Homo sapiens: one gene and its partner. The protein of the gene in region 2 binds, or shares a complex with, the protein of the main gene of each other region. Each region holds a gene or a part of one and is shown on either strand. Other genes may lie near its edges. The genes, in order: FBLIM1 and FLNC.

Evidence for each region.
Region 1: the proteins of FLNC (region 2) and FBLIM1 are in contact, whole or in part, in an NMR structure (PDB 2K9U), measured with the Homo sapiens proteins. Residues at the interface, in NP_001449.3 of Homo sapiens: Thr2339, Ala2344, Gly2345, Gly2346, Leu2347, Ser2348, Ile2349, Ala2350, Val2351, Glu2352, Gly2353, Pro2354, Ser2355, Lys2356, Ile2359, Phe2361, Asp2380, Glu2382, Phe2387; in NP_001337080.1 of Homo sapiens: Arg8, Val9, Ala10, Ser11, Ser12, Val13, Phe14, Ile15, Thr16, Leu17, Pro19.

Annotation. Positions count from the first base shown.
Region 1 is NC_000001.11:15,757,912-15,774,047, reverse strand, and holds the start of FBLIM1 (filamin-binding LIM protein 1), read right to left. Parts: upstream 15,254-16,136; 5' UTR 15,200-15,253; intron 9,556-15,199; exon of another isoform or gene 9,553-9,555; 5' UTR 9,363-9,552; intron 9,085-9,362; 5' UTR 9,065-9,084; coding exon 8,815-9,064; intron 6,673-8,814; coding exon 6,485-6,672; intron 5,521-6,484; coding exon 5,418-5,520; intron 3,640-5,417; coding exon 3,470-3,639; intron 1-3,469. UniProt on the Homo sapiens protein: Serves as an anchoring site for cell-ECM adhesion proteins and filamin-containing actin filaments. Is implicated in cell shape modulation (spreading) and motility.
Region 2 is NC_000007.14:128,838,251-128,847,441, reverse strand, and holds part of FLNC (filamin-C), read right to left. Parts: intron 9,176-9,191; coding exon 9,013-9,175; intron 8,840-9,012; coding exon 8,639-8,839; intron 7,420-8,638; coding exon 7,282-7,419; intron 6,895-7,281; coding exon 6,768-6,894; intron 6,609-6,767; coding exon 6,472-6,608; intron 6,273-6,471; coding exon 6,079-6,272; intron 5,989-6,078; coding exon 5,875-5,988; intron 5,212-5,874; coding exon 5,068-5,211; intron 4,868-5,067; coding exon 4,744-4,867; intron 4,649-4,743; coding exon 4,488-4,648; intron 4,214-4,487; coding exon 4,123-4,213; intron 4,035-4,122; coding exon 3,865-4,034; intron 3,647-3,864; coding exon 3,529-3,646; intron 3,439-3,528; coding exon 3,176-3,438; intron 2,785-3,175; coding exon 2,187-2,784; intron 1,453-2,186; coding exon 1,279-1,452; intron 1,142-1,278; coding exon 979-1,141; intron 698-978; coding exon 537-697; intron 1-536.

The DNA of each region.
Region 1 (16,136 bases), on a different chromosome or scaffold from region 2:
TTCTCATGCCTCAGCCTCCTGAGTAGCTGGGACTACAGGTGTGCGCCACCACGCCCGGCTAATTTTTTGTAGACACGGTGTTTCACCATGTTGGCCAGGCTGGTTTCGAACTCCTGACCTCAAGTGATCAACCCACGTTAGCTTCCCAAAGTGCTGGGATTACAGGCGTGAGCCACCGTGTCTGGCTTCCTCACACATTTTGGGTAGTAACATTCCCTTTGATCTCGTCTCACTTTCTATTTTGATTTTCCTTCTGTTTGGATGTCTTTATTTTACATATCGTAGTATTATTGCAGTCTTTAAAAAATTGTTTTATTGTGGGAAGAACACTTAACATGAGATCTACCTTTTTTTTTTTTTTTTTTTCTGAGACGGAGTTTTGCTCTTGTCAATCAGGCTGAAGTGCAGTGGCGCAATCTTGGCTCACCACAACCTCGTTTCCCGGGTTAAAGCAATTCTCCTGCCTCAGCCTCCCGAGTAGGTGGGATTACAGGCATGCGCCACCACATCCGGCTAATTTTTTGTATTTTTAGTAGAGACGGGGTTTCTCCATGTTGGTCAGGCTGGTCTCGAACTCCTGACCTCAGGTGATCTGCCTGCCTCAGCCTCCCAAAGTGCTGGGATTACAGGCGTGAGCCACCGTGCCCAGGCTTTTTCTTTTTTTTGAGATGGAGTCTTGCTCTGTTGCGCAGGCTGGAGTGCAGTGGTGTGATCTTGACTCACTGCAGCCTCTGCCTCCCGGGTTCAAGTGATTCTCCTGCCTCAGCCTCCCAAGTAGCTGGGATTACAGGCACGCACCATGCCTGGCTAGTTTTTGTATTTTTAGTAGAGACAGGGTTTTTCCATTTTGGTCAGGCTGGTCTCGAACTCCTAACCTCAGGTGATCCACCTGCCTCGGCCTGGCATGAGCCACGGCACCTGGCCAGTTAACATAATTTTATATGATGCTTTAAGAAGAAATGCGCCAGGCAAGGTGGCTTATGCCTGTAATCCCTGGACTTTGGGAGGCTGAGGCAGGCAGATCTCCTGAGGTCAGGAGTTCCAGACAAGCCTGGCCAACATGGTGAAACCCCCGTCTCTACTAAAAATACAAAAAATAGCCGGGCGTGGTGGTGGGCAACTGTAATCCCAGCTACTTGAGAGGCTGAGGCGGGAGAATCACGTGGAATTTTTCAGTGCACGCATGTTATTGTGGTCTATAGGTATATATGCATTCTCTTTAAAAACATATTTTAATAAAAAAATAGCTATATTAAAATAGAGATGGAGTCTTGCTATGTTGCCCAGGCTCGTCTTGAACTTCTGACCTCAAGTAATCCTCCCACCTCAGCCTCCCAAAGTGCTGAGATTGCAGGTGTGAGCCACCGCGCCTGGCTGGTATACATGCATTCATAGAAGCTGCCTCAAATTCCTTCTGGAATGAGGAGCAATGACAAAGAGATTCCCGAGGCAGGGCAGTGGGCTTCCCTCTAGCCTTTCCACCTTTTCTCCTGGACATGCTGTCTCTCCTTCCTGGCTGTGCTCCTGTGCATTTTACCTTGACCTCACCTGGACACGTGTGGGGGCATCTCCCACTCCCCCCTCCCTCTCATGGGCATGGCCCTTCTCTCCCCAGCACACTGCTCAAGTCTTCCTCCTGGCTGCTTCCTGCTTCCAGCTGGACACCCCTCCTCCCCTGGTGTCTCACCCCTGAGGAACACTCCCCCATGATGTTGATGGGGTCACAGGGACACGGCAGGGAGGGCCTGGCTCCTCTCTCTTCCCACAGTGCCTCACTGGTGGTGAGCCTGGGATTGGATTGTTTGGATTCTTCTGGAGAGTCTCAGCTCCAAATACTCTAACCCTTCAAATCAGCCGTTTTCAAACTTCTATATGCATGAGAATCACTTGAGACACTGATTCAAAATGCTGATTTCCAGGTGTTCCTCATTCATAAGCACAAAGAGTGGCCTACACATCCCCAGGGGATGCGGCTGTGGGTGGTCACCACACTCAACATGCCACCACAAACCATCCAAGAGTTAGAAATTCCAGTGTGCTGGCATCCCAGCTGGCTCTCCCAGATTGCACTTGGTACCCGGAAGCAACACAGATTCCCGTGAGATCAAACATTGGAACCCTGTGGCTCTACTCTAGGGGAGATAGTGGCAAGACTGATGGCAGGCTCCAGAGCCAGATGGGTGTGGAGTAGAATCCCAGCTCCTTGGCCATCTCGTGTGACCTCGTGTGGTAGCTAAGAGATGCCCCCAAAGATATCCAGTCCTTATCTCTGGACCCCGAATGTTACCTTGCCCGGCAAAAGAGGCTTTCAGATGGGATGAGCTAAGGATCTTAAGATGGGGGAGATTATCCTGATTATCCAGGTGGGTCCTAAATGCCATCGCGTGTCCCTGTAACTTGACACAGAGGTGACAATAGGGCCGCTGAAGTGGGATGCTACACTGCTGGCTTTGAAGCAGAGGAAGGAGTCAAGGAGAATGCAGCTTCATAAACTGCAAAAGGGGCCAGGTGCGGTGGCTCACACCTGTAATCCCAGCACTTTGTGAGGCCGAGGGGGTGGATTCCTTGAGGTCAGGAGTTTGAGACCAGCCTGGCCAAAGTGGTGAAATCCCATCTCTACTAAAAATACAAAAATTAGTTGGGCATGGTGGCAGGCACCTGTAGTCCCAGCTACTCAGGAGGCTGAGACATGGGAATTGCTTCAACCCGGGAAGCAGAGGTTGCAGTGATCTGAGATTGTACGACTGCACTCCAGCTGGGGTGACAGAATGAGCCTCCATCTTAAAAAAAAAAAAAAACAAAAAAAAACAGGCTGGGCGCAGTGGCTCATGCCTGTAATCCCAGCACTTTGGGAGGTCGAGGTGGGTGGCTCACGAGGTCAGGAGTTCAAGACCAGCCTGGCCAAGATGGTGAAACCCCATCTCTACCAAAAATACAAAAATTAGCCGGGTGTGGTGTCAGGTGCCTGTAATCCCAGCTACTCGGGAGGCTGAGGCAGGAGAATCCCTTGAACCTGGGTGGCCGAGGTTGCAGTGAGCTGACATCGTGCCACTGCACTCCAGCCTGGGCGATAGAGTGAGACTCCGTCCCCCACCGCAAAAAAAAAGAAGAAGAAGAAGAAAAAAAGAAATTGCAAAAGGCAGAGATGTGGGTTCTCCCTCAAGCCTCCAGACAGCACACCACCTTGGTTTTGGCCCAGTGAAGCTGATTTTGGACTTTTGATCTCCCGAACTGGGACAGAATAAACGTGTACTGCTGGAAGCCACGAAGGTTGTGGTGATCTCTTACAGGCAGCCCTAGGAAACCAATCGCCTTCACTGGGCTCCTTCTTTCTGAGCCTCAGTTTCCTCATCTGTGAAAGGGGTCAATAGTGCCTACTTCCCAGGACTGTGTGGGGAATGAAATGGTGCAACATATTCTAAGTGCTCAGCTCACTGCCTGGCACCCAGAGGTCTGCTGCAGGGGTTACCTGGTAGCAGGGTTCGCAGAGGGGTCGCCCATCCTTCTGGTAGAAGCTCTGCCCAGCCAGCTGGCGGCGGCAGGTGCGGCACGTGAAGCACTGGGCATGGTACTGCCTCTTCATGGCCTCCACAGCCAGCTCTCGGGGGGACACGGTCTTGTGGCAGAAGGCACAGATGTCTGGGGTAGGGGAGACACAGGCCATCACCAGCCCAGCCTGTGAGGACTGTACCCAGGCACCACCCAGAACATGCTCAGGATACCCGAGGCTCTGTCTTAAACCCTGCAAATTCCTCAAATGACAAATACAGAGGGTCATGAGGAGCATTAAAAAGGAATCTGAGTCAGGCATGGTGGCTCACACCTGTAATGCCAGCACTTTGGGAGGCCAAGGTGAGCGGATCACTTGAGGACAGGAGTTCAAGACCAGCCTGGCCAACATGGTGAAACCCCATCTCTACTAAAAATACAAAAATTAGCCGGGCATAGTGGCATGCCCCCGTAGTCCCAGCTACTCATGGGGCTGAGGCAGGAGAATCACTTGAACCTAGGAGGCAGAGGTTATAGTGAGCCGAGACTGTGCCATTGCACTCCAGCATGGGTAACAGAGTGAGGCTCTGTTTCAGGAAAAACAATAAAAATTAAAAAAAATAAAGAGCCCGGCGCGGTGGCTCACACCTGTAATCTCAGCACTTTGGGATGCCGAGGTGGGCGGATCACAAGGTCAAGAGATCGAGACCATCTGGCCAACATGGTGAAACCCTGTCTCTACTAAAAATACAAAAATTAGCTGGGCGTGGTAGCGGGCGCCTGTAGTCCCAGTACTCAGGAGACTGAGGCAGGAGACTCGCTTAAACCCAGGAGGTGGAGGTTGCAATGAGCCAAGATCGCGCCACTGCACTCTAGCCTGGTGACAGAGCAAGACTCTGTCTAAAAAAATAAAAATAAAAATAAATAACATAAATAAATAAGGAATTCTGGACAGCAGTTTCAGGACAAAGGGATTGTTGGCTGCCTTGACCTCCCAAAGTGCTGGGATTACAGGCATGAACCACTACACCCAGCCAGGAGCCACTTTGTTTATTTATTTTATTTTATTTTTTTATTTTTTTGAGACGGAAGCTCACTCTGTCACCCAGGCTGGAGAGCAGTGGCGCAATCTCAGCTCACTGCAACCTCCGCCTCCTGGGTTCAAGAGATTCTCCTGCCTCAGCCTCCCGAGTAGCTGGGATTACAGGCACACACCACCACACCCAGCTAACTTTCGTATTTTTAGTAGAGACAGCATTTCACCATGTTGGCCAGGCGGATCTCGAACTCCTGACCTCAGGTGATCCACCTGCCTCAGCCTCCCAAAATGCTGGGATTATAGGCGTGAGCCACCACGCTCAGCCAGGAGCCACTTTATATTCTGATGTGTGACCAGCTCTGAGATGTACGAAGGAAAGAAAGTGAACAGCAGAAGAGCCTAGTTTGCTACTTATGGAAAAATGGGGGGAGGGAGCAGGTGGACACATATTTGTATTTGCTCGTATGTGCATAGTGTCTTTGGCAGGATACATGAGAGCTCAATGACAGAGGACACCCATCTGGAAGGAAACCGGGTGGTAGGGGGATGGGGCAGGTTGCAGGCTTCTCACTGTGTCCCCACTCATGCTGTTTATTTTGCACTGTGTGAGGGCATTAGGTGTTCAGAAAATAAAATAGTGAGAAAAAATTCAAGACATTTTTGCTATCATAGCAAACTGCAGACTAACATTTTAAATAGAATTTAGGTATAAAGGGAAAAAGGCTAAAGCAATACAAATTAAATGGATGCCGAACTACAAAGCCCATCATTGTTAACATGAGCTGGGGTGGGGATGGGAAGAGGGGTCCTCACTCTCTTGGTTTCTACCTGGAAGCCCATGCTGGCCCCATGAGATCACCCCAGTATCCTCTCAGCCCTGTGCACCTACCTGTGGATGCCCCTTTCTCAACAGGTTCTGCCGGGGGAGGTGGCAGCTCTTCCTCCATGGGCCTGAGGGGACCGGGCTGGACTGAAGGTCCCTCCGCTGGGGCCTGTGGGGATGCAGACGGGGAGTCATCCAGTGGGACCCCATGCAGCCCTCCCAGCTCTGTTCCTCATCTGGGTGGTAACAGGTACAATTAGCCGCATTGTACCGAGAAGGAAACCAAGGCCCAGGGAAGCAAGGGACCTGCGTAAGTCTCTCAGCAGGAAGGTCACAGTGGCAGCTGACTGGGGTCCCTCAATCAGCCACTGCTCCTTGTCCTACTTAGAAGGACTCTCCTGCAACCAGGCTTCCCCATGGATGCTGGACTGAAGTGGACTAAGCCCTTGGCCTGTGACGCCCCCCATTTCTACACAGCCTCTGTTAAGGGCCCAGGGTTAAAAAACAGGTTCCTGGCCAGGTGCAGTGGCTCAAACCTGTAATTCCAGCACTTTGGGAGGCCGAGCCATGCGGATCACGTGAGGTAAGTAGTCTGAGACCAGCCTGACCAACATGGTGAAACCCTGTCTCTATAAAAGCACAATAAATTAGCCAGGCATGGTGTGGGTGCCTGTAATCCCAGATACTCAGGAGACTATGGCAGGAGAATCGCTTGAACCTGGGAGGTGGAGGCTACAGTGAGCCAAGATCATGCCATTGCACTCCAGCCTGGGTGACAGAGCGAGACTCCATCTCAAAAACAAACAAACAAACAAAAATCCAGGTTTCCTATGCAGCCTAAGGGATTTAGGTCGGACTCAGGGAAACGTCTTCCTCAGAGCTGAAGGAGGTGTCTGCGGCAGGTGCAGCAGCGAGGCAGTGGCATCCCTCTCCAGGGACCCTGAAACACTTAACCAATTTTTACCTGCCTAAATAGGGACTTCTGAGAGCTTCAAAGAGGGACTGCCCCCGAGCAGAAGAATGCACCAGACAAAGTCCAGGTTTAGAACCCCTGAATGCCCAGAAGGCCCAGACTCCCCGTGCCCCAACCAAGGGGACCAAGGGATTGCTGGGGGTCGGGGGGCAGGCAGTACCTGTGGTGGGGGCGGGGGCGGGGACAGGTGCAGCTGCTCTAAGTCTGCAATGAGTGAGGCCCCCATTGGAGCAGGAGCCTCCTCTTCAGAAGGCAGAAGCACTGGAGGGGGCGGTGGAGGGGGTGGGAGGAGGTCCAGGTCAGGAAGCACGTCCTCACCATCCAGGACAGGAGGAGGGGGTGGGCATCCTGCAATGGGGGAGGAGAGAGGGCTGGTCAGAGCCTCCCAGGTGGACCTGGGAGGGTTTTACTTACCTACATGGCCATACAGAGGGAAGCTGAGGGCCCCGGTCGGGATCACCCCGGCCTGGGTTCCATGTCTAACTCTGCCACTGATTTGCTGTGTGTCCTTAGGCAAGAAACTTAATCTCAGGCCAGGCACGGTGGCTCATGCCTATAATCTCAGCACTTTGGGAGGCCGAGGTAGGCAGTTCGCTTGAACCCAGAAGTTCAAGAGCAGCCTGGGCAACATAGTGAGACCTCAACTCTACTAAAAATTAAAAAAAATGTAGCCAGGCATGGCAGCACAAGCCTGTAGTCCTAGCTACTTGGGAGGCTGACGTGGAAGGATCACTTAAGCCCAAGAGGTTGAGGCTGCAGTGAGCTTAGATCACATTACTGCACTCCAGCCTGGGTGACAGAGCCAGAACCTGTCTCAAAAAAAAAAAAAAAAGCCGGGTGCAGTGGCTCACACCTGTAATCCCAGCACTTTGGGGGACTGAGGCAGGCAGATCACCTGAGGTTGGAAGTTTGAGACCAGCCTGACCAACATGGAGAAACCCCATCTCTACGAAAAACACAAAATTAGCTGGGCGTGGTGGGCATGCCTGTAATCCCAGCTACTTAGGAGGCTGAGGCAGGATATTCACTTGAACCCAGGAGGCGGAGGTTGCAGTGAGCTGAGATTGCGCCACTGCACTCCAGCCCGGGCAACAAAAGCAAAACTCCATCTAAAAAAAAAAAAATTAGGCTGGGCGCGGTGGCTCACGCCTGTAATCCCAGCACTTTGGGAGGCTGAGGCGGGCAGATCACCTGAGGTCAGGAATTTGAGACCAGCCTGGCAACCCTGGTGAAACCCTGTCTCTACTAAAAATACAAAAATCAGCTGGGTGTGATGGTGGGCGCCTGTAATCCTAGCTACTTGGGAGGCTGAGGCAGGAGAACTGCTTGAACCTGGGGAGCAGAGGTTGCAGTGAGCCGAGATCGCACCACTGCACTCCTGCTTGGGTGACAGAGCGAGACTTCGTCTCAAAATATACACACACACACACATACACACACACACACAAATTAGCTGGGCCTGGTGGTGAGAGCTTGTGGTCCCAGCTCCTTGGGAGGCTGAGGTGGGAGGATTGCTTGAGCCAGGGAGGTTGAGGCTACAGTGAGCCGTGATCACACCACTGCACTGCACTGCACTGCAGCTTGGGTGACAGAATAAGACCCTGTCTCGAAAAAAAAAAATGCAAATTCTCAGGCTCCACGGCAGATCTGCTGAATCAGAGATACTTGGGGTGGGAGCCTGCGGCTGTGCTGGAATGGACCCAGTGACTGTGTTGGTACAGGCCCGGGTGATGCTGCTGCTGACTCAGCGGAAGTGAGAGAAAGAGGCTCCGATGAGCTCACGGAGTCAGGAACCAGGTCTTGGAGAGGCAGTAAGAGTGCTGTGGCCTCTCCCAGTGCCTGCCTCCCGGTGCAGGGCCCATAGGCTATGATGGGCGGGCAGGAATTCAAGAGAGAAGCAGGGGGACCCGAGGCCACAGGGCAGGTGGGCAGAAAGGGGGTCCTGGACCCGCTCGAGGATGACTCTGAGAGGACAAGTACTAAGCAGATGGCAGATGGCAGCCTTCGGTGTAGACGGCTTCAAGCAGCTGGCAGCATCCCCAGGGCCCGGGGCCAGCCTTTGTGTCCTGCAGTCAGACCAGGCGCATGACCAAGCTGGTCACCTAAAACTTATCTCACTTCAGGGAGACTGAACCCCAAGATCCCCGTGCTCTGCTTGAGGGTATTAAATTGGCAGACGAAACGGCCAGCCAGCCATGCTGACCAGTGACAGGACAGCCCTTCCCAGGCAAGTTTGATCTTGTTCCCACACTCCCAAGATCCTCTTCCCATAATCCCAATAACCCATGAAAATGTCCCGGAAATTCTGACATCTAGCCTCTATTTCCCGGGCTCCCTTGCCCACCCAGAAGGGGCACATCTTTTTGTTTCCCGTTGATGTGTGAATTTTGTCAGGATGAATAATGAATGAATGAATGACGCTGGAGCCTGCCCTTTCCTCCCCACCTCTGCCTCTGACGTGGTCTTCCCCAAAGTCCCCTCAGCTCTTACCTCCATTGAAGAGCTGCATAGGTGCAGCCGGCACTGTGGCTGCAGCTCTGCCAGGGGTTGTCCAGGGGCTGGGCCTCCCCGCCAAGCCAGCCTCGGGTGTCTTCATGGGGGCAGGAGCCTCCCAGGGGCGGCCACGCCGGGCCTCACAAACTGCCTGCCTCACTTCCTCCGCCACGGCCACATCGCGGCGCGGGGGTGCCAGGGTGATAAAGACAGACGATGCCACCCTCTTCTCAGGCTTTGAGGCCATGGCTTCAGCTCCTGGTGTGGCTAGGGACAGAGTGGGGTACAGCACAGGATTGCCACCCAGACACACAGCCACCCTCCCCCGAGAGGAGAGAGCCTCCCTCCTCCCAAAAAGACAGGCCAGCCACCCTACCATCTCAACAACTCAGTCCAGCACCCAGCCCAGCCAGAGAAGGGGTGGGGGTGTCCTGCTGGGGAAGACAGGACCCACCAGGGAACTTGGCCACAGGGGTGAGACCCAAAAGTCCTGACTGCCCCTCCCCCGAACCTGCACACCTAGGGGAGCAAAGGGCAGCCCTCACCAATGATCACTCTTCCTTGTCTCACACCCGCGAGGAAGGAACAGATGCTTCAGCTCCCAGCCCCAGCAGGGCTGACTTCCGTTCCCAGTCTGGAGTCCCGCCTGCCTGCTGGGCCACACCCCAAGTGACCTCCCTCACCTGGGATCAGATTCTCCTAGAAGGGCTGAAGTCCTGGAGGTTCAGGCCAGCTCTGCTTTGGGAGGGAAAGAGAACAGATCAGGATCTGCCAGGGCGTCAGGGCTAGGCTCCGGCGGCAGAGTGGGCAGGGCACAGTGAGAGCTGCCCTCACCAAGACCGGCTCTGCCCTGAGCATGTTATACTCATTAACTCATAAACACTCACACGTTATGCTCATTAACTCATAAACACTCACAAGGTGGCTGCAGGGCAGGCACTATCATCACCCACCTAACACATCAAGAAATCGAGACTCAGAGAGAAGTCACCTGTCCAGGGTCACACGGTGGTGAGGTGGCACTGGAACCCAGAGCCCATGCTCTTGGCCACTTTGCTCTGCTCTGACCTTTCTCAGCCCTGCACATGAGCCAGCACCCTCCTTGCTTGCTTTCTAGTGCCAGACTCTCTCACTCCACCCAATCTCCAAAACCTGGGTCCTGGTTCAGGCCTGGGCAGTGGGCAGGGGGCAAGGGGAGAGATGGGGAGGCTCCATGGCCTCTGGTCTCACCTCCTAACCCTGATCTTTCTAGAGCATCAATCTCTTTCTCCTTTACTCAAAAACCTTCCATGGGCCGGGCATGGTGGCTCACAGCTGTAATCCCAGCATTTTGGGAGGCCGAGGCAGGTGGATCACTTGAGGCCAGGAGTTTGAGACCACCCTGCCAACATGGTGAAACCCCATCTCTACTAAAAATACAAAAATTAGCCATGCGTGGTGGTGGGCACCTGTAATCCCAGCTACTTGGGAGGGTGAGGCAGGAGAATCGCTTGAACCTGGGAGGCCGAGGTTGTGGTGAGCCAAGATTGCACCACTGCCCTCCAGTCTGGGCAACAGAGCGAGACTCTGTCTTTTTTTATTTATTTTTATTTTTTGAGACGGAATCTTGCTCTGTTGCCCAGGCCGGAGTGCAGTGGCACGATCTTGGCTCACTGCAAGCTCCACTTCCCAGGTTCACGCCATTCTCCTGCCTCAGCCTCCCGAGTAGCTGGGACTACAGGTGCCCGCCACCACGCCCGGCTAATTTTGTTTTTGTATTTTTAGTAGTGATGGGGTTTCACCATGTTAACCAGGATGGTCTTGATCTCCTGACCTCGTGATCCGCCCACCTCAGCCTCCCAAAGTGCTGGGATTACAGGCGTGAGCCATCGCACCCCGGTGAGACTCTGTCCCAGCACTTTGGGAGGCAGAGGCAGGTGGATCACCTGAGGTCTGGAGTTCGAGACCAGCCTGGCCAACATGGTAAAACCCCATCTCTACTAAAAATACAAAAATTAGCTGGGTGTGCTGGCGGGCGCCTGTAATCCCAGCTACTTGGGAGGCTGAGGCAGGAGAATCACTTGAACCCGTGGGAGTGGAGGTTGCAGTGAGGTGAGATGGCACCATTGCACTCTAGCCTGGGCAACAAGAGCGAAACTCTGTCTAAAAAAAAAAAAAGAAAAAAAGTATGGCTCTCCACCACCTCAGGATGAAGTCCAACTGCGGCAGCCTCAGCCTCTTTGAGCCCCTGGACCACTCGCCCTTCCTATGTCCTCTCTCTTGCCTTGCAGTGTTTCTTCTATGGTTTTCCTGTCCTGCCCCCACAGGGTGAATTTCAGCTTTCTCTTAGAGGCCCAGCTCAAACATCACCTCTTCCACAAGGCACCCCCCGATTCCTGGCCCTCTCCAGGGGCAGTTTCCTGCTGCCAAGGGTGGACGAAAGCGATGATAGCCCCAGGGCAGGACAGGCTGGCTCACAAGCTCACTATCAATGCGTCTGACCGGTGTCTGCATTCTTTGTGTGCCTAGAGGATATCAGAGCGCAGGCATCAAAACCCAGATCTGGCCACCCGATGGCTCACGCCTGTAATCACAGCACTTTGGGAGGTAGGCGATCACTTGAGGTCAGGAGTTCAAGACCATCCTGGCCAACATGGTGAAACACTGTCTCTACTAAAAATACAAAAATTTGGCCTGGCGTGGAGGCTTATGCCTGTAATCTTAGCATTTTTGGAGGGCAAGGTGGTTGGATCACGAGGTAAGGAGTTCAAGACCAGCCTGGCCAAGATGGTGAAACCCTGTCTCTACTAAAAATACAAAAATTAGCTGGGCATGGTGGCAGACGCCTGTTATCTCAGCTACTCGGGAGGCTGAGACAGAGAATTGCTTGAACCCGGGAGGCGGAGGTTGCAGTAAGCCGAGATTGCACCACCACACTCCAGCCTGGGCAACAGAGCAAGAGTCTGTCTCAAAAAAAAAAAAAAAAAAAAACAAATTAGCCAGAAATGGTGGCATGCACCTGTAGTCCCCAGCTACTTAGGAGGCTGAGGCAGGAGAATCGCTTGAATCCTGGGAGGCGAGGTTGCAGTGAGCTGAGATTGTGCCACTGCACTCCAGCCGAGGTGACAGAGTGAAACTCTGTCTCGAAAAAAAAAAAAAGAAAAGCATAAATCAGAGAGCATGGTGGCACCCTGATACCCTGATGTCAGGAAAAGGACATTATTTCCCATCTCTCAGGTAGTTCCTGCTGACAGTAGTCCCTGTGGCCAAGGCTGAGGTGGGGCCATGGGTGGGAAAGCTGGGAGTCCAGTGAGCACATCAGTCCTCAGCAGGCACCCAATGCCTGTGCCCAGGGCTAAAAATGTCCCCTTTTCTATCTCGCTCTTCAGGCTTCCCTCCTTATCTCAAAGTGCACTGGCCACTTTGGGTTCACAGCGACTGATGGATGATAATAAAAACAATAACACGTGCTCCTAAATTCCCTTAAGTTGTTTGGCTAAAATACATAGCTCAGTCTGACAATAAAATATCTATTCTGAGGAAGAAACCAATATATTAGGAAAGAGCTTCAAAACTTATTTTAAAGTACTTGTCTTTTGCTTCTGGGTTTGGAAATGATGTCTGGAAGTACGTATGCTTAGGCTGGCTGTCACGGGCTTTAGTTTTACACTTTGTTATAAGTTTAAGAATCTATTTTTGTCAACAATGTTCAGAGTACATGTGAGATTTAAAGAAATACCAAACGACTTGCTGATAAGGCACTTGTTTCGTGCCAGGCCCTGTGCCAGGTACTATATGTGCCTCAAAACCCACCAGCCTCTCAATCTAGCTGCAAGAAATGCCCATCCTGCCCCCACTTTGCAGATGGACCCTGTGAGGTTCCAAGAGGTTAAGTGACTTTCCCAGGCCATCCATGGCACTCGGAATTCTAATGGAACATCATCCAAAAGTGTGTCCCCAGACACGCTTTTCCTTCCTTGGGTGGCACAAAGTCGCCCAAGTTCCCAGGCCTGTTCTCACTCTACAATGGCCCAATCCAGACCAGAAATCTTGTGGTCGGCATGTTCCGGGCTGGTCCCCAGGGGCTGCTGTGGGGCTTCGGGATGGCCCTCTGCCTCCTCCCACCCAGCCCTGACCCTTCCTACACTCCTCCGGGAAGTCGGATCTGCCTGGCTTCTCGGAAAATGTCCAGCACTGAGGCCAGATGTTCACAGCTGGGCAGCCCCTATACCTCCCAAGCAGTGACTGCAGGGACCTCAGGCCCCAGGGGGTCTAAGCTGGGGAGTTTCAAAGCCCTGTCAATCCCATCGGGAGAGGGAGCCCCGGCTTCCCTCCCGTCCCACTGCCACCGATTCAGCTGGGAGCAGGCTGTGTGTAAGTTCCCTGGGGCCATCTCCCAGTCAGCTGTGCCCAGGGGACCCTCCGCCCCCACTCTTCCTCCCCCAGAGAGCGAATCACAGATCCAGTTAGATAAGTGGAGAAAAGTGGGAACAAAGGGAAGGAAAGTCATTTCCTGTCCAAAGGAAGGAAGGAGGCAGGGATCCAGCCAGCCACCCAGACCAGCTAGAGGCTGCAGCCTTGGGGCAGAGAATGTGCAGCTCAGGGGGGGTCACCCCCACAGTCCTCCTTCCTACTCCTTGTTCCCTACAAAGAAAAAAAAAAACAAAAAAACCTCTGGGGCCACCTCTAAGCTCTGTTCTTTTTTTTTTTTTTTTTTTTTCTGAGACAGAATCTTGCTCTGTGGCCGAGGCTGGAGTGCAGTGGCGCAATCTCAGCTCACTGAAACCTCCACCTCCCAGGTTCAAGCGATTGTCCTGCCTCAGCCTCCTGAGTAGCTGGGACCACAGGCACACGCCACCACCCCTGGCTAATTTTTGTATTTTTGGTAGAGACAGGGTTTCACCATGTTGACCAGGCTGGTCTCAAACTCCTGACCTCAAGTGATCCGCCCTCCTCGGCCTCCCAGAGTGCTGGGATTACAGGCTTGAGCCACTACACCCGGCTTAAGCTTTGTTATTTATTTATTTATTTTGAGACAGAGTCTCATTCTGTGGCCCAGGCTGCGCAGTGGTGCGATCTCGGCTCACTGCAACCTCCGCCTCCTGGGTTCAAGCGATTCTCGTGCCTCAGCCGCCGAATAGCTGGGATTACAGGCGCGCGCCACCACACCCGGCTAATTTTTGTATTTTTAGTAGAGACGGGGTTTCACCACGTTGGCCAGGCTGGTCTCCAACTCCTGACTTCAGGTAATCCGCCCGCCTCGGCCTCCCAAAGTGCTGGGATTACAGGCGTGAGCCACCGCTCCCGGCCAGCTTTGTTCTTTAATGACCGGATAAAGCAGTCTACCTTTGGGTACGGAATTAAATTTAGGCAGAAGTGGCGGGGTGTGCCCCAACCCCTCCCACCCTGCAACTTAGGGGAGGGGTTCCCTCAACCTCTTTCCCACCCCAGGGAAACAGAGGAGGTAGAGAGCTGGGTTCACACGCGGCCCCACTTCTTTCCTGCGGGGTGACCCCGAATAGGTCACAGAAACTCTCTGGCCTCGTTTTTTCATAAAGTGAGAATGAGTGTGTCCCTAGGGCGGCTGAGAGGATATATAAGGAAAGAAGACTCAGGGTCTAGGCCCTTGGAAGGTGCAAAGAGAAGGACAGCTGGTTAGGCAGCAGCTGAGAGGGAGAAGCAGCCCGGGGGCTGGGCTCGGCTGGGGGTGCCTCCAGGACCCGGACAGAACCTACAGCGTCATTAAGAGCAGGAATCTGGGCGCGGCCCCAGCCTCTCCCCGGGGTCCTCAGGCTTGGGTGGGAGGTGAGGGGTAGGGGCCGACGCCAAGATCATCCCAGGGCACACACCTGGGTATCGCCCATCTCCACACCTTCTCAGCCCCCGACGGGCGCGTGAGGCCCAGAGAGGAGCAGCCCCGGGACCCGTCCCTCCCCTTGCCTGACCCTGGCTAGGAAAAGGGGCCTGGAGCGCCCCCGGGCTCCGGAAACGCGGGACCCTCCGCAGGCAGCCGAGCAGGGCGGCCGCCGGGGTCACCGCTGGGCGCCGCCGGAGCTTTAATTCGATCCATGTGCGGGACTCCGGCCTTTTGTGCGGGAGCTTCCGCCCTGCGCGCCGGGTCCCCGGCTCCCGCTCCCGGGCTGGGACTCGGCCCTCCGCCGGCCTCACTGAGCCCTCGCCCCGGACCTGCCGACTCCCCGACTCCGGGGAGAGAGACCAAGAGACTGGGACGCAAAGGGCGTGAGGACCGCACCCCCCACCCGCAGGCCCCTCCAGGGGCGCCGCGCCGGGGGTCCCGGCTGGCGACCGAGCAGGCTCCGGCCGAGCACTGCCGGCGCTGTCACCTGTGTGCACCGGGGACAGGGACGGAGGGACGCGACCCCCACCCACCCGGCCCGCTTACCTGGGCCGCCCGCGCCCCGGCGGCTCCGATCCGACGCCCGAGCCAGCGGAGCCCGGAGCCGCTGGGCCTCCCGTCCCCTCCGCCCGTCCGCCCTCCCCGCCCCCTCGGCTCCCTCCGCCCCGCCGCCCCGCGCCGCTTTACCATAAAAGGTGAGGCTCGGGGGGAGGGGGCGCGGGATTCCCGCCCCGCGGAAGCGGCCCCTACCTGCCCCCCAACCTGCCCGGCCGCGCCCCGCGCCGCCCCTTCCCCCTCCCTTTGTTCCCTGGACGACGCCTCCCCTCCCCCTTGGCACAGGCCAGGGGGTGGGAATGGGGGGGAATGGGGATGGGGGCGATGGGGGAATGGGAGGGATGGGGAGTGGGGGTAGGAGAATGGGGAGTCGGGGTGGGTTTCCTTCCCTCCCCGCTGCCCATCCCCTCGCGTTCTTCATGGACCCCGAGTGGTCCCTGCCGTCCCCCTTCCCTCGCTCTCCTGGGTTGGCAACCCCACCTACCCTGTCCGGCGGAGGTGAGCGCTTACTTTGGCTCTGGGATCCGCCAGGGTCTTGCGTCAAACCGACCAGGGTTCTGCGGCCGTTTACTAAGCGTGAGACCCGGAGCAGTCACGCCACCTCCTGAGCCTCAGTGTCTTCATCTGTAAAGTGGAGGTAGCCACTGCCTACCTCTCCAGGTTGGCCTGAGGATAAAAGGTGACAGTTACAGCCAGGACTGTGATTAATAGTGGTTAATATATGCTGGGTTGGGGGCTTTTTCCGGGAGTGTTCCTGAGGGTGGGGGTCTCGGAGACCCCCAGTGGAGCAGGTCACCTTGTTCTGCTCTCCTGAGCGGTAAGCCCTCTGCAGGTGGGTCCCGGTGTCCCGGGGGACAGGCCGCTCCAGGAGCTCTGGAAGGCAGGGCCCGGCTGGCCCTGTGGCTGAACCCCTCCCTCCACATCCAGT
Region 2 (9,191 bases):
TGTGAAAATAAAATGTTTTCAAAAATGAAATGTATTTCTGACACTGTGGCTGAAATAATAAAAAGATGGGAAATTAGATAAGGGAAAAAATTTCCAATTTCAGCAGTCCCAAGTCATACAATATTTGAAGACATGACCTGCCCGGGCAGCTGGGTCTGCAGAGGGCAGGGGAGTTCTGCAGACGATGCGTGCAAGAAGGCCCAAGGCTGGCCTGAGCCGCCAAGAGGAGTGGACTGTGTCTGAGTTTCTGGACACACAGTGAGTGGTGGACCTGCAAAGCCAAGGTCTTGAGCTCCAGACAAGGGGCTAGGAGGCCAGAGTGTGTTCCTGTGATTGACTAGGGGGGCTGTCACATCAACCCTCATTGCCTGCCTCCTCCACGTCCTCCCTCTGGCCGGGCTCCGGCCCCAACCCACTCTAGGCTGTCCTCTCTATGAACATTCTTACCCAACTTCCTTCCAGTTTCCCCCTTGTGGGGCGAGCATCCTGCACCCTCCCTTGTCTTCCCTGAGACCCCGACCACTCTCTCTGCACACCTGGGATGGGCCGCCCCCCGAAGGTGATGTTGACGTCATAGTCTCCAGGAGTGAAGGGGATGTACTCCACGGTGCAGCTACCATCCTTGTTGTCCTTGCAGGACATCTTGGCTTCCGAGGGACCCTCGATGGCTAGGCCAAGGCCCCCGGTGCCCGCTCCCCTGAGAGATAACATCCCCCCATCAGCTTCATAAGACCAGTGAGTGAGGATGAGGGAGTAGCTGAATGGGGGGACAGGGAGGAAAGAGGGCAGGCCGCTGGGGACCCAGCTGAGGAGAAACGAGCTACAGGGGCCAATCTGGGGTCCTGGAGGGGGTCTGCTCCTGCCTCACCCCTGAGAGAGGATGGGGTGGGGCTGAGGCCCAGGCAGAGGGATGAGCGAGGAGGGCCAGGGGCTGGGAAAGGGTGGTCACAGATTTAGGCTAGCAAAGGGGGAGGATACCTGGTCTCCACAGTGAATCGGTTGGCCTTGTTGACCAAGCCACCCTCCAGGCCTGGCCCGAAGGCTCGGACGCGGGTGGGATCACAGCCCTCGGTCACGCCCACTCGGAAGGGGCTCTTGGGCACAGCGACCTCATCATACAGGACCTCCACCAGATGCACGCCTGGAAGCCAGCCACAGGGGCATCAATCAGGGAGTGTGCGCCCCCACCACCCCTCCTGCCCCGAGGGCAATATCATCAGATCCCGGCCCTGCCCACTTGCCCAGCCCTGCCCACTAGCCTGGCCCACCGGCCCTCACCCTCCTCGTAGGCGGTGTACTGCACTCGGTAGGTGCCGTCCCCATTGTCTGTCACATAGGTGTCTGTCTTGGCCCCCGAGGGGTTGAGCACACGAGCCGTCACGTGGTTGCCGCCTGTGGCTGTTAGGGATCTTGCATCCACAGTGAACTCAGTGGTCACCTCCCGCAGGACACCTGGAGCCCAGGGGTGGCGTGTTCAGCAGGGGTGGGGGCAGCCTTCACACAGATGCTCCCTCTCCTCTCCCCCTCCTTTCCCTCTCCTCTCCCTCTCCTCTTCCCCTCCTCTTCCCCTCCTCTCACCCTCCTCTCCCCCTCCTCTCCCACTCCCCAACTCCCAGGCTGCTCCTCTAATCGGAGCCTGGGCCCCACACCCTCCCCTGCACCTCTGTGAGCTCCAGCCTCTGCCTTCACTCCCTTCTCCATGTAGTGACATTCTCTGTTCACTTGAGTCACCCACCAGGCTGTGGGCCTGGGTCTTGCATCCCTCTGCCGTGGCCCATGCCTAGCCAGGGTCTGGCCCCTGGCAGATGGCCCATTCCCACTTACTGTCTTCTGACTCTTGTCATCCTCTACCCCAAAGCTTTCCCCGTGCCCCCGTCCAGAGCAGAGTTTTAGCTTTTTGGATCAGGGTACCCCTTAAGCACATGAAAGAAGAGATCTCTCCAGAAAAACGCCCAGAGGCAGGTGCAGTTTTGCCACAAGAGCAGAGGCCAATCTCCACCCCCGGTCTTCCCCTCCACTCCTTCTCTGGGGTTTCTGGGCCAGTAAGGACTCTGGGGCTGCTCCGAGAGCCCTCCCTTCACCCCAGGTTGCTCTTCCAGCTCTCAGCTCTTCTTCCCTCCCTCCCACGGACTACCCAGCTCCTGCACCTGCCACTTGACCTTTCTTGGCTCCTCCTGTCCACTCACCGTGTGGCTCAACACCAGGCCCTGAGACCTTGACGCCACTGGTATCGACCGCAGGCTGCACATGGACACGGGTGGGGAATTTGGGCACGGGATGCCCGCCATACTTGATGGTAATGGTGTAGGTGCCAGGGAAGGCAGGGCTGTAGGTGATGTGGTAGGTGCCATCCGCGTTGTTGTGGATCAGCACCTCGGCCTTGACCCCGGCATCCGACAGGATCTCAATGGTCAGCTCCGCCTCGCCTGCCTCTGAGCAGTCCACAGTGAAGGTGGCTGCCTCACCGACCTTGCCGCGCTCCAGGCCCGGTCCACTGGCCCGCACCTTGCTCGGGTCAAACACAGGCCGAATGGTGGCTTTGAAGGGCGAGCCAGGGATGTGGGCCTCAGCAAACAGGATGTTGATGGTGTACTCGCCAGGCTCCGTGGGCAGGTAGCTGACAGCACATGAGCCATCACCATTGTCCTGGCACTCGATCTTGGCCTCGCAGGGGCCCTCTACGGTCAGCCCCAGGCCACCTGTGCCAGCCCCCTTGGTGTCGATGGAGAATGGCGCGGGGGTGCCTACCAGTCCACCCTTGAGACCCGGGCCATAAGCACAGACCTAGGGGAAGAGGCAGGTTGTGGGTTCCCTGCACCTGGCCTCCTCATCCCAGCCTTCATGGCCCCCACCCAACTCATCACCTCCAACTGTGGCTGCTACTGTGGACTGAGTGCTTATAACAATCCCAGGTGATGACATTGAGGCAGCGAGATGAAGCAATTTGCCCCAGTTAGTGGACCTGGGATTCAAGCCCAGGTGTGACTCCAAGGCCAGGCTCTTAATAGCTAAGTTGTCTCCAAGGCAGGTGGTGGGGTGGGGCTGGCCTCAGCCCCACACCCTTGGCTGTGCCCACTCCAGGCACATAAGTCCCTCTGGCCTCTGCCCCCTATGACTCATCTATCTTCCCAACAAGTCCCCAACTCCCAGCCCCAACCAGCTCCTATCTCCTCACCTTGGAGGGATCAGGGGGCAGGACACCCTCCACAGCAAACGGGCTGCCAGGCACCGGGTGACCATCGTAGGTGATATCCACCTTGTAGGGCCCCTCCTCCGGGGGCATGTAGCGCACAGCCTGGGCTTCCGCTCCACCGCCTGGCTCCAGCTTGCAGGGGATGGGCCGGCGAGAGGGCGAAGTCATCCGCACATCCAGTTGGCCCTGACCGCCAGCCCCTCGTGTGTTCACAGAGAATGCTTGTTCCTGTCCCACAGCCACCTCTGCGTGGAGGGCAAGTGACACCATGAGGAGACTCCGGTCCACCCTACCCGAATACCCCTCACTCCCAGGGTGGCTCTTGCCCCACTTACTGCTATTAAGGCCCTGAACTTTGATTTTGCTGAGGTCCAGCGGGGGTGCCACATTCACCACAAAGGGGCTCTTGGGGACAGGGTCCCCGCCATAAGTCACTGTCACTGCCATGTTGCCCTGTTGGGTACAATGGTAGGTCAGAACTGGATATAAGGCAAGGTCCTACAACATCCTGGTGGTGAATATGGGCTCTGAAGCTCAGATCCACCATGAGAGTGAGGGCAGGAGGCAGGAAAGGCGTGGAGGATCCAGAACTGGTCCCATGGGACTGGAGGAGGGAGACCCAGGGCTCTGGCGGGCCGGCCGGGCGGTAGCATGGGAGGGGCAGAGCGCACCTGCTGGACAGCGGTGTACTTGACAGTGTAGGAGTAGTCATGGTTGTCTATGATCTCAAAGTCCCGCACAACCTCGCCCTTGGCTGTCCCTGCAAACTGCACATCCAGCTTGGCCTTGCCGGCTCCCTTGGTCAGCACCGTGAAGTGGGTGGGCTTCCCGACTTCCACACCTGAGGACCCACCCAGAGATGTGGTGAGGGCCTGGCAGCCACCTAACCCCAACCTCGAGCCAGTCCCAGCCCCTGCCCAGACACTCACCTGTGCGATTCAGCCCAGGGCCCTCGGCCTTGACTTTGCTGGCATCGTGGGATGGGTCCACCTTGATGTGGAAGGGGCTGGCGGGGATCTCCTGGATGTGGAGGAGGCTCAGTCAGGGCTCTCGAGGGGAACACACCCCTGCTCTCAGCTAGATGCTGGCTCAGGACACACCCAGGGGACCCAGCATGGACAGGGGCAGCCTCCAAAAGGGCCCCCTTTGCTTCCTCTGAGGCACCCTGCCTCACACAGGTAGGGCTCCACCATGTCTGCGGAATCATCCCTCCCTGTTCCCAGTGACAGCATCTCCAGCTGCCTTCTGGAGCTGGCAGGTGCATGTCGCTGTGAGTACCCAGGAGCTTAGGTACCTGGTTGGCAAACAGCACCATGATGGTGTAGCGGCCCGCCCCTGGTGGCGTGTACTTGACGGTGAAGGTGTCGTTGTCATTCTTGATGATGTCGAAGTCAATGTCAGCCTCTGCAGGGCCCACCACGCCTGGGGCGCACTTGATGCCGATGCTCACGTCGCCTGCAGAGAAGCGGGCACTGCTGTGAGTTGGGCTCAGCCCCCGACTCGACTCACCCCCGCCCCCTCCCAGACCCACCCCTTCCGGCTGGGCGCACCTTGCCCCGCCTCGCTGCAGTCCACCGTGAAGTAGGTGGGCTCATTGGCCTTGAGGCCTGTCTTCTCCACTCCGGGGCCGTACACCTTTACCCGCTCGGGGTGGCTGCCCTCGCCCACGTTCACCTGCGGGAGGGGTCGCAGCTCAGCGTGGTGCCCTCCCTCAAGGCTCATCCTCCTGCCCAGCGCACCCGGCCCAGCCTCAGTGGCACCAGCCCAAGCCTCAGTCCCAGCCTGAGCCCAGGGACAACAGGGACTCCAGCGAGGGTTCCGCCCTCCCTCAGGGACCCCTGGTGGTGGGCACGGGGCAGGCCGGGAGGACGCACCCGGAAGGGGCTCTTGGGCACGTTTACGCCTCCCCAGGAGATGATGATGGTGTGCTTAATGGGCTTGGTGGGCACGTAGGAGCAGCGGAAGGTGCCGTCGCCGTTGGGGATCACCTTGATGTCGATGGGACAGCCGTCGGCGTCCTGTGGGCATCACCCAAGCAAAGTTCATAGCTGTGGCCTCTGCAGAGCGCCCTCTGCTGGCCGCAGGTGAACCCAGCGCCTCCTTTCCCACCCCCAACACTGGCACTCCCGCCCCCACACCAGCCACTGAGGCCACCAGAGCCCAGGGCCACGTGCTCTGGCGGCCAGAGCCCACCCTGGGAGCCTGACTCAAGGCCATCTGTATGGCTTGCTCTCCCAGCCTAGGTTTCCTCAACTCTGAAATGTGTTGGACAGGAAGAGTGTGGGCTAAATTTATGTTCCTAAAACTGAATCATGAGCCTTTCAAAGAAGAATCACCCTCTTAGATCCTCAAGAATATGTTCATTAACCTCTAGGGGTCAATGGACACCAGTCTGAGAAACTGACTTGGGAAACCAGTGTCTTATTCAATGAAACAATCTTTCAATTACAAATTAGCACAAAAATGACTCTTTGGTAAAATACGTTTTTAGGTTATCATCGTTAAGAAAACACAAAATTTAAAATTTTCCATGGTACTGATGGGCCCATGAGTATCAGTCCTGCCTGATCTTCTGTGATGCTGTCATTTCCTGCTGGGAGGCCTCTGCCTCTGGCCTGGCCCTGCCTTCCAGGGTCCCTGCCATGGGTAGTAAGGGCAGCAGAGACTGGACAATGACCTACCTGGGCATAGAGCTTCAGGTCTCCCTTGCCAGCTGCACGAGCATCAATGGTGAACTCAGCGGGCTTGTCCACGATGCAGCCGGTAGGCTCCAGGCCAGGCCCAAAGGCCTTCACCTGTGCGGAGGGAAGAAGGCTGAGTTGGGGAGGGGAGGAGAACCAGCTTGCCCCACCCCCGGGGCAGGTGTGTGTGAGCTGGGACCACACCTTATCTGGGAAGCAGTCAGGTGGGGCGGGCAGGATGTGGGCAATGAAGGGTGAGTCTCGGATGTCCTCATCGTCACAGATGACGTGCACAGCGTACTCCCCAGGCTCCGTGGGCCAGTACCGCACATCGCAGGAGCCATCCCCCTTGTCGTCACATTCGATCTTGGCTTGTGAGGGCCCCTCGATGGAGAAGCCTGGGGCAAGGTGGGGGAGGGTCGGGGATCCAGCATCAGGCAAGACCCTTCCGTCCCCCAGCTCCCCTCTAGCTGCCCTCATGTCCTATCTCCCTGCTCACCCCAGCGCTCCCCAGCATGCGCACTGCACCCATTACCCACAGTGTCCCCTGCTGCCCTCCCCCGCAGCACTCCCTCCTCCTGCCCCCCAGCCACTTACCCAGTGTCCCCACCTCGGTGCCAATGGCTTCCACCACAAAATCGGCTGACTTGCCCACCTGGCCAGTCTCCAAACCAGGACCCCAGGCCCGGACCTTTTGCACTCCTGCCTCTGGGCTCACCTGTACCTCAAAGGGGCTGGGCAGAGAGGGAGCTGGTGTCCATGCCAGGAAGTGCCCCCCAAAGTCCCTCGCAGCCCAAACTCCATCTCCCCTCAAACTCCCTCGCAGCCCAGTGCCCCTCGTCCCTCCCTGTGATGGCCTAGACAGGACAGCATGGGGGGCGCAAGGTACTCACCTGCGAGGGATGGCGTAGCCGCCCCACGTGATGGTCACCACATACTTCCCAGGCACCACCGGGTAGTACTCGCACTCGAACACACCATCCCCAGCCTCCCGCACCTTCACTGGCTCCTCTGTGCCCTCTGAGGAGATGGGGGCAGGGTGGGGAAGAAGGCAGATCAATATCCTTGAAGTCCCAGCTCCTCAATCCCCTCAAGGAGCCATTGGGACCCCGACCCAGCCCGAGGGCAGTGCTGTAGTGAGCAGTGCTGCAACTCAGGGCAGGGAACACTTGTCATCCCTGTGCATAACACCCCGTATAGCACTTAGGGTGGAGAGAATCATTCCTGGCTTGTAGACCAAGAAACTGAGGCAGAGAGGAGACAATGAGCCTGAGATTCTGGGGTGCCTCTGGTCACTGTGGAGCTGTGGTGCTGGCTGTCACTGCCCTCTGGGAGTCAGAACCACTGGCCATACTTCCCTTATGATCCCCCAGCCCCACCCTCACGACCCTGGGCTCTGGCACTCACTTGGCCCCTTGACCGTGACCTTGAGCTCCCCGCTGCCGGCACCCTTGGTAAACACCTTGAAGTCAGCCACCTCTTTCACGCGAACACCCTTGGGCTGCAGGCCTCGCCCAGAGGCGCGGCAGGCGTTGGGGTTACAGGCTAGGGGAGGAAGAGAAAGGAGGTTGGGGGTGCTGAGGGGCCTTGGACCACTAGCCCCCACCTCCCTGTGCACAGTCCTTCTAACCCCTCCCAGGCACAGGCAGTGGCCCACGGCCCTGCTCTGGAGCCCTTTGTGTCCCCAGCACAACCGGGGCTGCCGGGCTGGAGCTGGCTACAGGCCCCAGATCAGGCAGGTTACAAGAAAGTTTCCGAGCCAGTGCCACTGGGGAAATGCATGGCAGAGCCTGGGCTGAGAGTGGGCTCAGAGAGACAGGGAAGGCCCCTTTACCCAGCCCAAGGCCATCCATCTAGAGCCCTCTGGGCCTCTCAGGGCACCAAAGCAACCTTAGGATCTAAGTCATGCCACAAAACATCCAGCAATGCCACAGAACAAGGGCTACTTCATAGAACTCGAAGCCTGCCATACAACACAGGCAACGTGTGGACATCAGCCTACCACAGACCGTGGCCAGTGGCAATGAGCCCAGGCCTTGCTATGGAACACAGGCAAAGGAATGGGAATCTCAGCCTGCCACAGAATCCAGAAAAATGGCATGGGACCCACAGGTGCTACGAAACAGGACACGACACATATTCCAGGACTACCATGACCATAGGCGATGGCACTGCCCAAGGGGTACCACGGAACACAGGCAATGGCTCAGAGCCCAGATTTCATCATAGAAATCACCAGGCAAGTGGCAAAGACACTAGACCTGCCACAGAACACAGACAACGGCATGGAACCTGGGGCCTGCCACAGAATGCCAAGGAAGGGGGGGCGATTCCACACGGCCCGGGCCATGCCACACAGCACAGGTGAGGCCAGTCAGCTGCGGCCATGCCTGGCCCCGCCTCCACTGGAGAGCATTAATGTGGCATCACTCTCGGCCTGGTGGACGATGGGCACTGAGTGCAGGGAGAGAACAAGTGGGGCAGTCACCACCTGAGGGCTTGGCATGCAGGCAGTACTCCCTAGATATGCCCCCACCCATACAGCCCCGTCACTTCCGCTCAGCCCTCCCAGGGTGGCACATGTTCTGGGACCCTTCACTGTGGCCTCCCAGCTGTGCTCTTAGGAACTCCAGCCACCTTGGGGGTGGGATGGAGGACTCAGGGAGGGGGTCTCTGCAGACCCCCGCCCCAGCTCTTCCTCCTGCCCCTTGCAAGCCTCTGGCTTTGGTAAGGGCTACCGTGGGGAGCAGTGAAGGGCCCTTACCTTCCGACACATGGACAGGGAAGGGACTGCGGGTGATGGGGGCACCCGCAAAGGCCACATGCACGGTATGTGGCCCCTCCATGGCAGGTCTGTATGTGCAGCGGAACGTGCTGTCACCCTTGTCCTCCAGGGCCACCTCCACTGTGTCCCGCCGGCCCTGTGGGTCCACGATCACCACAGCAACATCGCCAGTGCCGGCCCCTGCCGAAAACAGAGGCTGTCAGCACCACTCTGGACACACACAGCTGCCCCGGTGCCCTCACCCTGAGGCTGCCCACCCTCTGGCTGGCATCCCTGTCCCAGCCTCCCCCCACCCCCACACAGCCCCACATGGTCAGGGGCTTTCCACCTGCACCCCCTGGGGCCCGTCCTACCCGCAGTGTAGATGTCAAAGTAGGTGGGTTTGTTGGCCACATTGCCCACAGGTTCCAGGCCAGGGCCACGGGCTGACACCTTGTTGGCATCTCCCAGGGCCATGCCCACGTTCACCTCAAAGGGACTGCGTTCAATGTTCTGGCCAGCAAAGAGCACGGTCACCTAGGGGTCAGAGGTC